Regions from separate parts of the Homo sapiens genome. Here regions 2 and 3 are each linked to region 1. Evidence: fine-mapped expression QTL. A gene starts in region 1. Each other region holds a variant in brackets. All regions are shown on one strand. Distances are from middle to middle. Region 1 holds the start of FEZ2 (fasciculation and elongation protein zeta 2). Region 2 overlaps FEZ2 (fasciculation and elongation protein zeta 2). Region 3 overlaps CRIM1 (cysteine rich transmembrane BMP regulator 1).

What was found. PIP is the estimated chance that this variant, and not a neighbour inherited with it, causes the effect.
Region 2: its variant is the best candidate, but not a certain one, in a credible set for the expression of FEZ2 in monocytes (Quach 2016, PIP 0.64).
Region 3: its variant is the best candidate, but not a certain one, in a credible set for the expression of FEZ2 in hippocampus (GTEx, PIP 0.89).

What each region holds. Positions count from the first base shown.
Region 1 is chr2:36,595,576-36,599,820 of GRCh38, forward strand. It overlaps FEZ2 (fasciculation and elongation protein zeta 2), which reads right to left and starts at 2,593. Exons shown (of 8, transcript NM_005102.3): 1 at 2,302-2,593. The coding sequence starts at 2,567. RefSeq lists enhancers at 1,734-2,661, 2,662-3,588 and silencers at 2,042-2,401, 2,442-2,661.
Region 2 is chr2:36,554,025-36,558,269 of GRCh38, forward strand. FEZ2 (fasciculation and elongation protein zeta 2) reads right to left here. Exons shown (of 8, transcript NM_005102.3): 7 at 1,659-1,724. Among named protein-coding and RNA genes, the nearest start is that of FEZ2, 42 kb to the right of the region's middle. The variant T/C (reference allele first, on the strand shown) is at 2,432.
Region 3 is chr2:36,541,569-36,545,813 of GRCh38, forward strand. CRIM1 (cysteine rich transmembrane BMP regulator 1) reads left to right here. Exons shown (of 17, transcript NM_016441.3): 15 at 2,808-2,930. Among named protein-coding and RNA genes, the nearest start is that of FEZ2, 54 kb to the right of the region's middle. The variant A/G (reference allele first, on the strand shown) is at 2,598.

The DNA.
Region 1 (4,245 bases):
TGTGGCCCAGTTCCAGTACCGGTCTGTGGACCAGGGGTTGGGGACCCCTTGACCTAAAGCACAGCAATATCTGAGTAAAACAATTATCAATTATATCTAGTGAAAAGGGAACTGGAACAGACTATCAAGCAATGATGAGTATGTTTTTGCAATATAAAAGGGACAATGCCAGTGATGACCAGCTCCCAACTCCCGGAAAAAAAGAGATTTCATATGCATTCCCAAGTCAAGAGACATGCATTACCACCAACATATCATCTACTAAATACCATTAACAAGAGCGACAAAATATTTTTAAGCAAAGGCTAAAATAACCTACTCTCCTGACGGTCTAAGTGAAACAAAAACTCTTAACGATCTACGTACAATCCTCTAATTGATTTAAGTCAGCTACTCTTGAAAAACCCAAATACATAATACATCTACACTAATTTTTAAATCCAGAATGTGTCCTGGGTTTAGTGATTCAGAGTATCTAAATCTACATATACATAAAATTATCTTCTCTTTGGGAACAGGCTTCCAAAAATGTCATCTTTTGCTACTGACGGCATGCATGTGTGTATAAAATCCAATTATAAGTGTTTCCCTTCTCTACACCTGGGCAGAACACTGTACTGAGGAACCAATAAAAGGAGATGGTCTCCAAACACAGGTGGGCCTGCACCACTGCTCAGCCATGTTTACAGGCCCCACTCCCAAGGCTGTCTTTACAAGCTTCCTACCTTATTCCTGATAAATCTGTTTGTTTCACAAAGGAAAGGAGACAATCAGGCTGGAAACTCCTTTCCGTGCCCGTGACTCCTGTCCTGTCTCTCAAAAATTCTTCCCTAACCTCTAAGAGTCTCTCCATCCCATCAATGCTCTGAAAATCCATTCCTTCCCATGTCCTCATTTTTGAGACAAAGTCTCGCTCTGACACCCAGGCTGGAGTGCAGTTGTGCGATGATGGCTCACTGCAACCTTCGCCTCCAGGACTCAAGCAATCCTGCCATCTCAGCCTCCGGGCAGCTGGGTCCGTGGGACCACGGGCATGCGCCACCGGACTTCACTAATTTTTTTTTAATTTTTTTGTAAAGACCAGATTTCACGATATTGCCCAGTCTGGTCTCGAACTGCTGGAAGCAAGCCATCCTCCCACCACAGCCTCTCAAAGTGCTGGGATCACAGGTGTGAGCCACCGCGCCCAATCTTATTCCACTCATTTTACCTTCAGCCTCTCCGGAGGCTCCTCTCCCCCTATATACACAACATGCTCAAGTCCCTTTACTCTCACCATTCCTATTTACCATCTTTTGGGGGTAAAACCATGGTACCTAATTACAACTCTTACTTAACCAAATTATAATTGCGGCTCAGGTGGTTTAAAAAGTGCCCTCAGGAACTCTGCGCCTCACCTCTCCCAGCTGTGATAAAACCCCGTGAACCTCCTATCATTGCTCTTAGGTGATTCTGTAATTATTAATATTACTTGTGTATGCCTTGGTCTCCCCACCAGACCATGCGATCGTTACCATCAGTAAGCAGGGCCCTTCGTTTTCGTCTCTGTGGCGGCTCGCACTCTACCAGGGCTCCCGGGTGGGTCCCACAGATTCCTGTGCCCTAAATGCTGCCTCGCACGTTGGTACTTATGCACAGGCAATATACTCCACCTAGAACGTTAGACTTTTTTCCACCTGCCAGGCACACTCCCACTCATCAGTCAGATCTCGTTTGCACATTTCTTTATAAAGTCGTTCCTTACTCTCCCCAAGACACACGCTTTTAAGTCTCTCACATTTGGTACATATAACCATTGCAGCGCTAATTACATCCATACATGTATTTGTTTACAAATCTATCTCCCATCCTACGTTGTGTCCTAAGTGGGAGGGACAGTGCCCAGTCGTTTTGGTGTTCCCTGTGCGAAGCAGCGCCTGGCACTCAGCAGGTGCTTAATAAATGCGACTTGAGTGAATGAATGGCGACACACGTGCCCCAGGAGGTGCCCCAGGAGGTGCCGTCTCTAACTATGGGCTCTGCATGGGCGATTCCCTTCTAATACAAACGAGGGTTTGGTTTGCAGGAAGGAGGGCGGGAGGTACCGAGGCGGAGGTTTTCAGGGCTCGTGGCGGCGGGGGGCAGGGGATTTAAATTGCTGGGCGAGCCGAGGCCGACGGCCGGAGGAAGGAGGCGAGAGGGCGGGGACTCCCGCGTCCGGGCGGAAGGAGGGCGCAGGGAGGAGCTGCGGCCGTAGGGCTGCCGGTCGGGCGAGGGGTAGGGGAGGCTCCCGCCCACTCCCGGCCGGGGCCCCGCACTCACTCGTCCCCCTGCAGGAGGCTGCGCTCCGTGATGGGCCGCACGGCCGTCCTCGGGGGCTCGGCGCCCGGATCCGAGGGGCGGAAGCACAGGCTCAGCTTCTCCTCCAAGCTGCAGGCCGGGGCCGGGAAACCGTCGGCGCCCCCACCCGCCTCGGCCCCCGCCTCCGCCCCAGGCTCGGGGCTCGCGTTACAGTTCTCCTGGTCCAGGAGGCTCCGGGCCGGCTCCTGGAACTCATAGAAATCCTGCCAGTCCCCGTCCGCCGCCATCGCCGCCCGGAGCAGTCGCGCGCCCCGCCCAGGCCGGCCCAGCCCGCCCAGCCCGGCCCCGCCCCGGCCCGAAGCCCCGCCCCCGCCCGCTACCGTGCTGACAGATCCCAGGCTGTCCCAACCCTGGGTCTCCGGTGGCCTGAGTCTTCCTGGAGTTGAACGCGGTGCTACTAGAAAGCCAAGACCTTAACTGCCTTGAGTCACTTCCTATATTCTCTATCATTTAGGAATAACTTCCCTGTTAGCTTCCCTTATTAGCAACTTGGCCTAAATGTGGCTAAAATAAAGGACTTCTTTAAACTTACGACCTAATATCAGATTACGCCCCGAAAGTCGTTTTCCCCAAGGTAACCTGCTCCTTTCCTAACTTGCCAACCAGAATAACAGCCAGAGTCAATGGGAAATGTTTAGGTGGTACCGAAGTTCATTCCTCAAATATTTTACCTCTCACGTGCAAAGCACTGGCTAGATCCTGCAGAACATACAAAGATAATTATGCCAGTTAACATTTGCAAAGCACTTAGAGCAATGCCTAATAGTAGATACCCTATGTGTATGTTATAACTAATACATGGGTGCCCCATACACAGGGCTTACAATGTCGGAGTGATAAGAGTAACAAGAAATTGTTTAGACCTCATAAAAACTAAGTGTGATTGGGCGGTTCAGTTTTGCAAGATGAAAAGAGTTATGGAGATGGATGGTGGTGATGGTTCCACGACAGTGTTAATGTGCTGAATGCCACTGATCTATACACTTACAGATGGTTAAGATAGTAATTTTATGTTTATTTTACTACAATACAAAAAAATTGGAGTAGGCCAGGCGAGGTGGCTCACATCTATAATCCCAGCACTTTGGCAGGCCCAGGTGGACGGATCGCTTGAGGTCAGGAGTTCAAGACCAACCTGGCCAACATGGTAAAACCCCGTCTCTACTAAAAATACAAAATCTAGCTGTCAGGCCTCTGAGCCCAAGCCAAGCCATCGCATCCCGTGACTTGCACATATACACCCAGATGGCCTGAAGTAACTGAAGATCCACAAAAGAAGTAAAAATAGCCTTAAGGATGACATTCCACCATTGTGATTTGTTCCTGCCCCACCCTAACTGATCAATGTACTTTGTAATCTCCCCCACCCTTAAGAAGTTTCTTTGTAATTCTCCCCACCCTTGAGAATGTACTTTGTGAGATCCACCCCTGCCCGCAAAACATTGCTCTTAACTTCACCGCCTGACCCAAAACCTGTAAGAACTAATGATAATCCATCTCCCTTCGCTGACTCTCTTTTCGGACTCAGCCCGCCTGCATCCAGGTGAAATAAACAGCCGTGTTGCTCACACAAAGCCTGTTTGGTGGTCTCTTCACACGGACGCACATGAAATTTGGTGCCGTGACTCGGATCGGGGGACCTCCCTTGGGAGATCAATCCCCCTGTCCTCCTGCTCTTTGCTCCATGAGAAAGATCCACCTACGACCTCAGGTCCTCAGACCGACCAGCCCAAAAAACATCTCACCAATTTCAAATCCAGTAAGCGGCCTCTTTTTACTGTCTTCTCCAGCTTCCCTCACTATCCCTCAACCTCTTTCTCCTTTCAATCTTGGCGCCGCACTTCAATCTCTCCCTTCTCTTAATTTCAGTTCCTTTCATTTTCTGGTAGAGACAAGGGAGACACG
Region 2 (4,245 bases), 42 kb before region 1:
TTCTCTGACTACAGTCTCCACTGTAGTCTAAATCCTTGCTGCTTTTCCACCCAGTCCTCACAATACAAAGCCAAGACAAAACCACAACACATGCACACAGACAGCTCATCAGAAGCAGGTACAGTATAGATAGAACTGGGCTTACAGACAGGAGCCAGCGGCCCGAGCATGAGGAGCAGAATTAGATGGGTGCTGCTTCCCTAAGGCATGCGGTATAGGTAGGTTCACAATTATAGTCCTAGGTTTTCAGAGTAAAGAATTAAAAATCATTTTTCCCCAGAGGACTCTGTTCTTTGGGTCATAACATCCTTCCATGCAGTTAAATGCTAAAATAGCTAGAGAATGCTTCAGAAGCTCATTCTATCTCTGGCCCTCATAGAGGCCTAGGAACCCGATATAATTAAAATTTAAGACATGTTCTTTATGTTCGTCTCATTCCTGTTTCACATCTAGAAGAACGAACCTCAGAACAATCCAGCTTTCATACCAATGCTAGCACAACACAAAAGCAAACAAAGATGTCAGGTATTAAAAAAAAAATTTTTCAGAATTTTATAGGGAGAAAAAGTCCTCCATCAGAAAAAAAGCTTATTTTTTAAAATGATGTCAACTCAGTCTGTTCTACTCCAGTGTCAACCCACTAGTGTCTAGCTCATGCTTCTTACTCTCACCGCATCAAGACTCTTACAAGTGAAATGTGTGATTCACTTTGAGCACCCTGTGTATACTACTGAGGTTCCCCTTTCATGACACTATGGTTTAAGAAAAGACCATCAGAGGTTTCTAATGTCTCAGAAATCTTCATCTTCCTTGTGCTCAGCTAACTTTAATGGAGAAGAGAGAGAACCCAGAGAAGAAGACTGTTACTAGAAGAGGATTGCTCTCAAAATTTGATCAAACACTACAAAGATGCATTTTGTGATGCTTTCAAAATCTGGTCCCTGAATACCTGCTACTTTAAAAAAATATTTCATCGTAAAGTATTAATTTTGCCTCTAATTAAGTTCTTCCGTCCCTTCTTTATCATCCAAACTTTGCTCTTTTCTCGGCAAAGCAACTCAACCTCTCACTCTTCTTTTGCCTCATCAATATTCCCACCCTGTGTGAGCCTCACCTTGCCTCTAAGATTTGTGGCTGCTTTTTCACTTTCCTGGGTTTATGCAAGTCCATTCTTTTTATTTCCCCGCTTCCCTCCCTGTGTCTTACATCAGTCCCTTTCGTATTCCCTTTGGCACTGTTCACAGATGTGACTCTTCCTTCCTTCATCCGTCCTCACTAATGATCTGTCCTCCTTTCCACTGTCCTCAAGATGACAGAGACCACCCTTCTCAAATTTCCCAGTGCCAATCTGCCAACATCTGATACCCACATGATTATGGTGCCATCTCACTAATTTTCTTCTACTACCTCTCTTGATGTTTATAGTTTAACTGTGGAGATTATTTCCAACCCAGAACCTCCAATAAAACTTAAATTATATAAAACCATGATATATAATGTTGGTAGAAGTCAGTCATGTAGCTAATCCTCACCCTGCATAATAAGATTAATGAAAGTTGTGCATTGGGAAGTTACTGTCTAATGTATTAGCAAGGCGATGTATTTACTGACTAATCCAAACCTCCCAGCCATCGCACCTATACCATTATAAAACTCACCTTTCAGAATATAATCAGTTAACAAGCTCGGAACTTTTTCACTGTCCTCCTTCATGGCACGAAGAACTGCAAAATAGAAGAGGGGAAAAAAGACAACAATTAAAAATTTAGATCAAAAATATTATTTAATTTCAATCATTGTGGCCTTAATCTTCCTTAATTATAGGATATAACTGACTCATACAAATTATAGGTGATTTTCCTGATAAGGGGATACAACAATAAAGGCCCAATAATTTATTTTAGTGGAGTAAGTCCACAAGAATTTATTTTCGGTAAGAATATCCCACTTACCTGAGAGTTGCTTCCCTGATTTAAAATTTCCAAACAGTGGAGACAAAAAAAGAGGAACTGGGTTATTTACAAGGAGCCTTCGCTCTGTAATAATACCGGAAAGTGGGTTACTATAATGTGCACCTCAATGAACTCTGTGCAGCAAGAAAACCTCAGTGCTGCAGATCAAGCAAACTAGAGAAACTCTTAAAGAAATGGACAGCTATACCCTCCAACAAGCGTATCCTGTCAGACTCCTTAGAAACTTTCAAAGAAAAGACCCAAATGAAGAACAGACTTCCATGAAGCAGCATCGGGCATCTGCCTGGCTGTTGCCTCCTCTGCACTAGGGAGAAACCTGGGAGAATTAGCCTCATTCTAATTTGACAAATTTATCTTCTAAGTAAAAACTAAAATAGAAAAAGCAGCCACCTAGTATAACGTTTTTCTTTTTTAAGCTAGACCATTCAGGTTGAGATAAACTCACAAATATTATACTT[T/C]AACAGAGATTGCCAACTCAAATTTTCTCCAAAGCATCCTGGTAAAAATATTTCACTGTTTTTCCCCACCAATACGACAAGGCAAAATAGTGTAACTGTCAAATCAGCCTTCCTGGGTTTAAACCCTGGCTCTGCCACTTCCTAATTGTGTGACGCTGAGCAAGCTACTTAACCACTTTTGCACCAAGCTCTTCATCTGTGAAATGAGAATAATAATTAGATTTAATCTCAAAGGTTTGTTATGAGGACTAAGCTACTAATTCAGATATAAAGGTCATATCATAGTGCCTGGCACATAGTACATGCTATGTATTAACTGTAACTAACACTACTCAAATTATTTAAATTTTTATTAACTATTATTATTGCACCCAAAATCCCCTAATAGCTTTTATCAGGAAGACTATATATCCATAAACACTGTGACTGTCTCCACAGGGCTCTTCTTTTGGAAAGAAAAGGAGCTTTGGACCCAAATATGTCCAGAGATTCCAAACTGTGACAACCTATAAAGACATCTCGATGCTGGAATTATGATGACTTTAGTTTGACCAATGAAGTATTTGTTCTTGATCTGAGAAGCTGAGGCCTGCCAGTAATTCCTGGCTTATGAGCAATATTTATGTTCCCTTCTTTAGAGGGCTACCATGTTCAGTATTTCTGCTTCCAATCATGTTTAAAATTTTTTCTAACTTCTAAATAAAATCACATACCAAAAACCAGCATCATTAAAAGTATAATTGCCTGGGAATTAAGAGATCCAGCTCTGTAACTAACCATCCCCCTGTGTGATCTTGGACACATATAACTTAAGTTCTTCCTGAAAATAAGAGGGCTAGCTACCCAGTTAATCTCTTGATTTTTTATTTCAGACTGGCTGGCATCACTTGATTTATCCATATTTAAATATAAAATTTTTAAAGAATTATTCACCAAAGGAAAGAATAAAAGCTCCAAGTTAGCAGGCAGGGAGCTAAGAAATAAGACACTTGCTTCTACTCTTAGGTTTTCCTTGCCCATTCCTCTTAAATTTCCAAAATAAGTATCATCATCCATACTCATCCATGTGATGCTCTTTCATTTGGTTCCCCCCTAATTAGCAAGTATCATAAATATTTACCATAACAAAGACCTAACAGATCAGCAAATTCAATCCCTCCATTTTAACGGCTAATTGATAGTAACTTAGCCAAAATCATACATATATTAATCTATTTACTGTGAGGTAAATAGAACAAATATTTTTTATCCTAGTTTTTCAATGTAAGCAAAAGAGAGTAAGTAACTTCCAAGGATATCCCTGAAAATAACAGGGATAGAACCAGAATTCAAGGCTCATTTGCGGCCATCATAAGAGATACTCAATATCATGTATATTTAAATCTAACAATTTTTTTTTTAAGGCAAGCCCCTTGAAGGTGCATTATCTTTGTCTGCTTTGTTCACTAAAGTATCCCAAGTGCCCAGATCATGGCCTGGTACAGAGTAGGCCTTCACTAAATATTTGCTGAATGAATGCATGTTCTTAAAACATCACTGTCAATTTATGTTCTACCTATAACTACTACCTCGGGTTCTACATTCATAAGAAATAAAAAGTGTTTACCGTAAATCTTTCCTATTCAGTTACTGACAATCATAGATATATAAGATCCATAAGGAATTTTATTTATGATAAATGGATATGTTCTTAAACATGTAAGAGATGATGGAGATTTAGGTTATGCTTTTTCCCAAAATTTTAGCTCATAAATATTTCACAAGGTAAGAAAAACAGAAAAAGTACAAATCAACACTAGAGTTACTGTTGTATT
Region 3 (4,245 bases), 54 kb before region 1:
CAAGCACCTCGCCCCGTATTCCAGAAGAGGACATTTTAAGGAAGGCAACTCTTAGAGATGACCAGATGCCTCTGAAAGTAAAATATATCCCCAGTAAATTATCTTGAGTTCCTCCAAAGCGCAGGTCAAGTATGAGCACAGGAGCGATTGTGACCGTGTGCCCGTGATCTTCGTGGTAGGGCTGGATGTAGCTTTGTGTAAATCTCCCTGGCACTGTCCATCTGTAATGCCAACAGCTGTAAAGGGCTCTTCTAGTAAATACCAGAAGGGTTATATTTTAGAGTCTTGGGTTGAAGGCGGTCTTTGGCCATAGAAGGCGGCCTGGGTCTAGGCGTGGAAACAAATAGCATTCCCACTTCTTTTTGTTTCAACAAGCAGTTTTTTAACTGAAAGAATTGTTCTTTTTGGCAAAACTGCTCAGAGGCAGCTTCCCTTTTATGTTCAAATTAAAGGGAAATGACTCTCTTCCCTTGGACTTGAGGACTGTGAACTGGAGCTGTGCGTGTTCTGTGATAAAGAAGGAGGTGTGGGTGGATTTTAATCAGAGCTGAACTGAGTGGTGGAGTGAGCTAATACACAGGACAGGTTATGAGCTGCTGGAAGTAAGAAGTGGCTGTCAGGCATCACTCATCAGGAGAGACCCATGGGGGCCAGGATTGGTCTCACTCAAAACTGTATGCCCAAAACCAGTGCCTGCCATGTAGGAAGTGCTCAGGAAATATTTGTTGAACAAATGGTAATACAATTAATCACTGAAGAAGACATCCTCCTTCACCATAGACAGATCCTTCTAACTTTCCCTGCTGTTTCCAAGTAGAGCCCCTGTGGGAAGAGGACTCACTGTCATGCCTCAGCTTGGTGGAGTTTCACCGGAAATCTACCCATATGCAGGGTCAAGGCAAAAGAATTCCAAAGTTACGTCTCTCCCTCTCACTCAGGAAAAAACCTGAGGTGGAACTGAATCAATCCCAGCTCTGGGGCCTCTGCAGAAACTTTTACTACTTAGCCATTGACATTTACAGGTTTGTTGGAATTGGTGTCGCATTTGCCCTTTACACTGAGGCCTCAGAAACCAGTGGCAGTTCGGCCCCTATTGTCATAGGAAGGCTCAGTGTGAAGCCCTGGACTAGGCAGGGGAGGGGCAGAAGGGTGTGTGTGGCACTGAAAGGTGTCAAGTAAATGGCGACATGGCTTTTCTGCCCATATTCACCCAGGAAATTCATACCACACATGAGAGTTTTTCAGTGGGTGCATTAAATACCATCCCCCTGCACACACCTCCCGGAATCACCTAGTCCAGACCTACCGAATCAGGACCTGTGAGAGTCAGCACATTTTCTAAGCTCTTTGGGTAATTCTGATATGATTTTTAAAAATTTGAGAGTCACTGGTTTGTGCTCAGGCCCCTGCACCTGCAAATGGTAATGTTTTCAGTAACTTCTATTTTTAATTCTCGAGTTTGCAGGGATGCACTGAACCTGTAGAAACTATAATTGTTCCCAGTTCTTTTTATGTTTAAAGGTTTTATAATATAACTAAGAAAGCAGAAGACTATTCTTGGAGGCAACAAGATAACTTGGGCTTTGGAATCACAGAACTGCATTTGAATCCCAGCTCTACCACTTACTAGATGCATGATTTTGAGCGATTTAACTTAACCTCTCTGGGTTTCTTTCCCTGGCTGGGTACCCAGTTAACTCATGGGGGAAGCTTAGCAAGTACTCTCTTCTCTATCACTTTCCTCTTCTCTCAAAGTCATCTTAAGGTTTACTTCTCAAAAGCCTGTTAACTTTGAGACAGAAAACAATCACTCTGAGCAGAGGGGATTATTAATCCTATTTTAATTTATATACTTATACTGTATATTTTATGTTGGTCTAAATTAGGCTATGGTGAGTATTTAGGATCCTACGTGTTGAGTAATTGCTTTATAAAAAAATCAGTGAATAATATGGCAGGATCTGCCCGAAAGGAAATACGTGCATGACACAAACTTTTATTGTCACATTTTGAAAACAGGTTCTGAAGAATTAATTGCTTTAAAATGTGGGGCTAGTTGTCGTTAGCTGGATGAAGTATAAATACAAAGAAATATTTGTAGGAGCTGAGAAAAGTTCTGATTTTTTTTTTTTTTAAAAAGACCTGATATTTGAGATAAATAATATTCTTCTGTTTGTTTTATGTTGTAGTATAATACCTATCTGATCAAACTGGATAATGTAAATATATTTACTGAAGATCAGCTTCTAATCTAAATGGTTCCAGTGGTAACATAATGGACATCTGAGACTTATACTCATGAGGTCTACCTACAGTCCATTCCCATTTAGGGGAAGAGAAAGGAGAGGAAATGGCCAAGAAGTCCATAAGAAGTGGACAGTGCTTTAACTTTTTCAAGTTTTGCTAACATATTTTATGTAAGTTATTCAATACCCCCATATTAAAGAGCAGCAGCTATTAAACACCAACATTTATTAGCTGCTGGAAAGTAATAAATAACTTCAGCTAGTCCCCTTCAGTTTCCATAAAATTATAAAACCAACACCATTTGACGTGAAAAAGCAGTTTTTGACCCTGGTGGAGTAGAGAATTCTTTC[A/G]TCTTTTAAATGTTATAAGACATGTTTCTCCTCACTGCAAAGCTCGTGATTCTCTAGCATGAGTGATGAATGATGTAAATGGCAGAAACTGCATCTTTCATGTCCCAGGAAATGTGGTCTTGAATTGAGTGCACCATTTGGATTGAGAATACAAAAGCCAACAATACAGCAGCTTCATCATCTCTTAGGAAAAATGTTCCCTTCTTTTAGAAATGTATGTCCCAGAACCAACCAATATACCCATTGAGAAGACAAACCATCGAGGAGAGGTTGACCTGGAGGTTCCCCTGTGGCCCACGCCTAGTGAAAATGATATCGTCCATCTCCCTAGAGGTAAGCATTGAAGGCAGCTGAGATCTGCTAGTTTTCTATGTGGTCTACTTAGGTGTTTTCTAATTTTTAAAATTTCCTATGAGTAACTTTTAAAATGACTTGCTGAAGTAAATTCAAATAACTATTCCCGGGCAGACCTGCTTGGCTGAAACATATTTACACCACACATTGATAAAATAAGTCAGCAGGTAACTGGATTAAATGCCTCCTTCCTGGCCCTCTGTGCTCAGAGACTTTGTGATGACGGAAATAAATGGAAATAAATATGTTCCTAGTCATAAGAGCCTGGTATCTGGAACTTCTAAGCCATCTCTCAAACGTATGTATATATAAACTTTGTAAGGAGAGTAATCATGAATTAGTCACTGTCTCTTGTAGATTCCGCACTGAGCATTTGTACATTAGGTTACCCTCTACTTCTGGGCAGTTTTCACTTCATGTGAGCTAAACTTATCACCTATGTTGATTTTTCTAGTCACCAGGTTTACTCCATGCCTTTTTATCTTGCTCTATCCTTTCAGTCTGTGCGTAATAAAGATGTTATTTTGTCTCCCAATAGCTGTCACTATTTCCTTTTCTATAAAAGTAGACCTCTTCTTGATCAGTAGTATAAACTTGCTCTTAGCCGTGACTCAGTACTGCCTCCTGTGTCCTCCAACCATATTTTCCAAATCATTGCTATATAACTTATATTTCTTTTGGAAGAAGCAATATTCATTGCTTGAGAGAGATTAATTGTCTGTTACTCTAGATATTCTAAACGTTATGCTTGGATCAAACCAGATGACCAGAAAGTCAAATTCCTGGACCTAGTGTTTTTGGCTCTCTGTATAATTGTTCTGAGTGTGCTTTAGCATTATGCTTACATTCATTCAGTCAGTAAATATTAGTGCCTGCTGTATGCCAGACCCTGTTCTAGAGGCTAGACTTCAACATACTGTAAGTACGACTATTCTTATGACTGAAGACCTGTGCATTGCATAGTATCTATGTTATAAAGCCCCTAAAGAGAAATTTTCTCATGCATCAATAGCAAGAAAATGTATGCTTCTCCTAGGCAACTGATTTGTTTTAACCTAAAAGACATTGTGAATCGTATTAAAGACTGATAGTTGTTTCCGTTTTTGGCTTTGGCTGCTACAAAGCTCAAAGCTAACTTTGATGGCTTGGTTTTAGCACAGAAACAGAACTGGAAGACTGAATTTTGTAAACAGACCTCACTTGCAGCTTCATTTTTCTTTCACCAAGACCTTCCTTAATTTATATCTTATTCTTCTTGTATGACACATATTCCTAAAACTGCTTTCTATTTGAT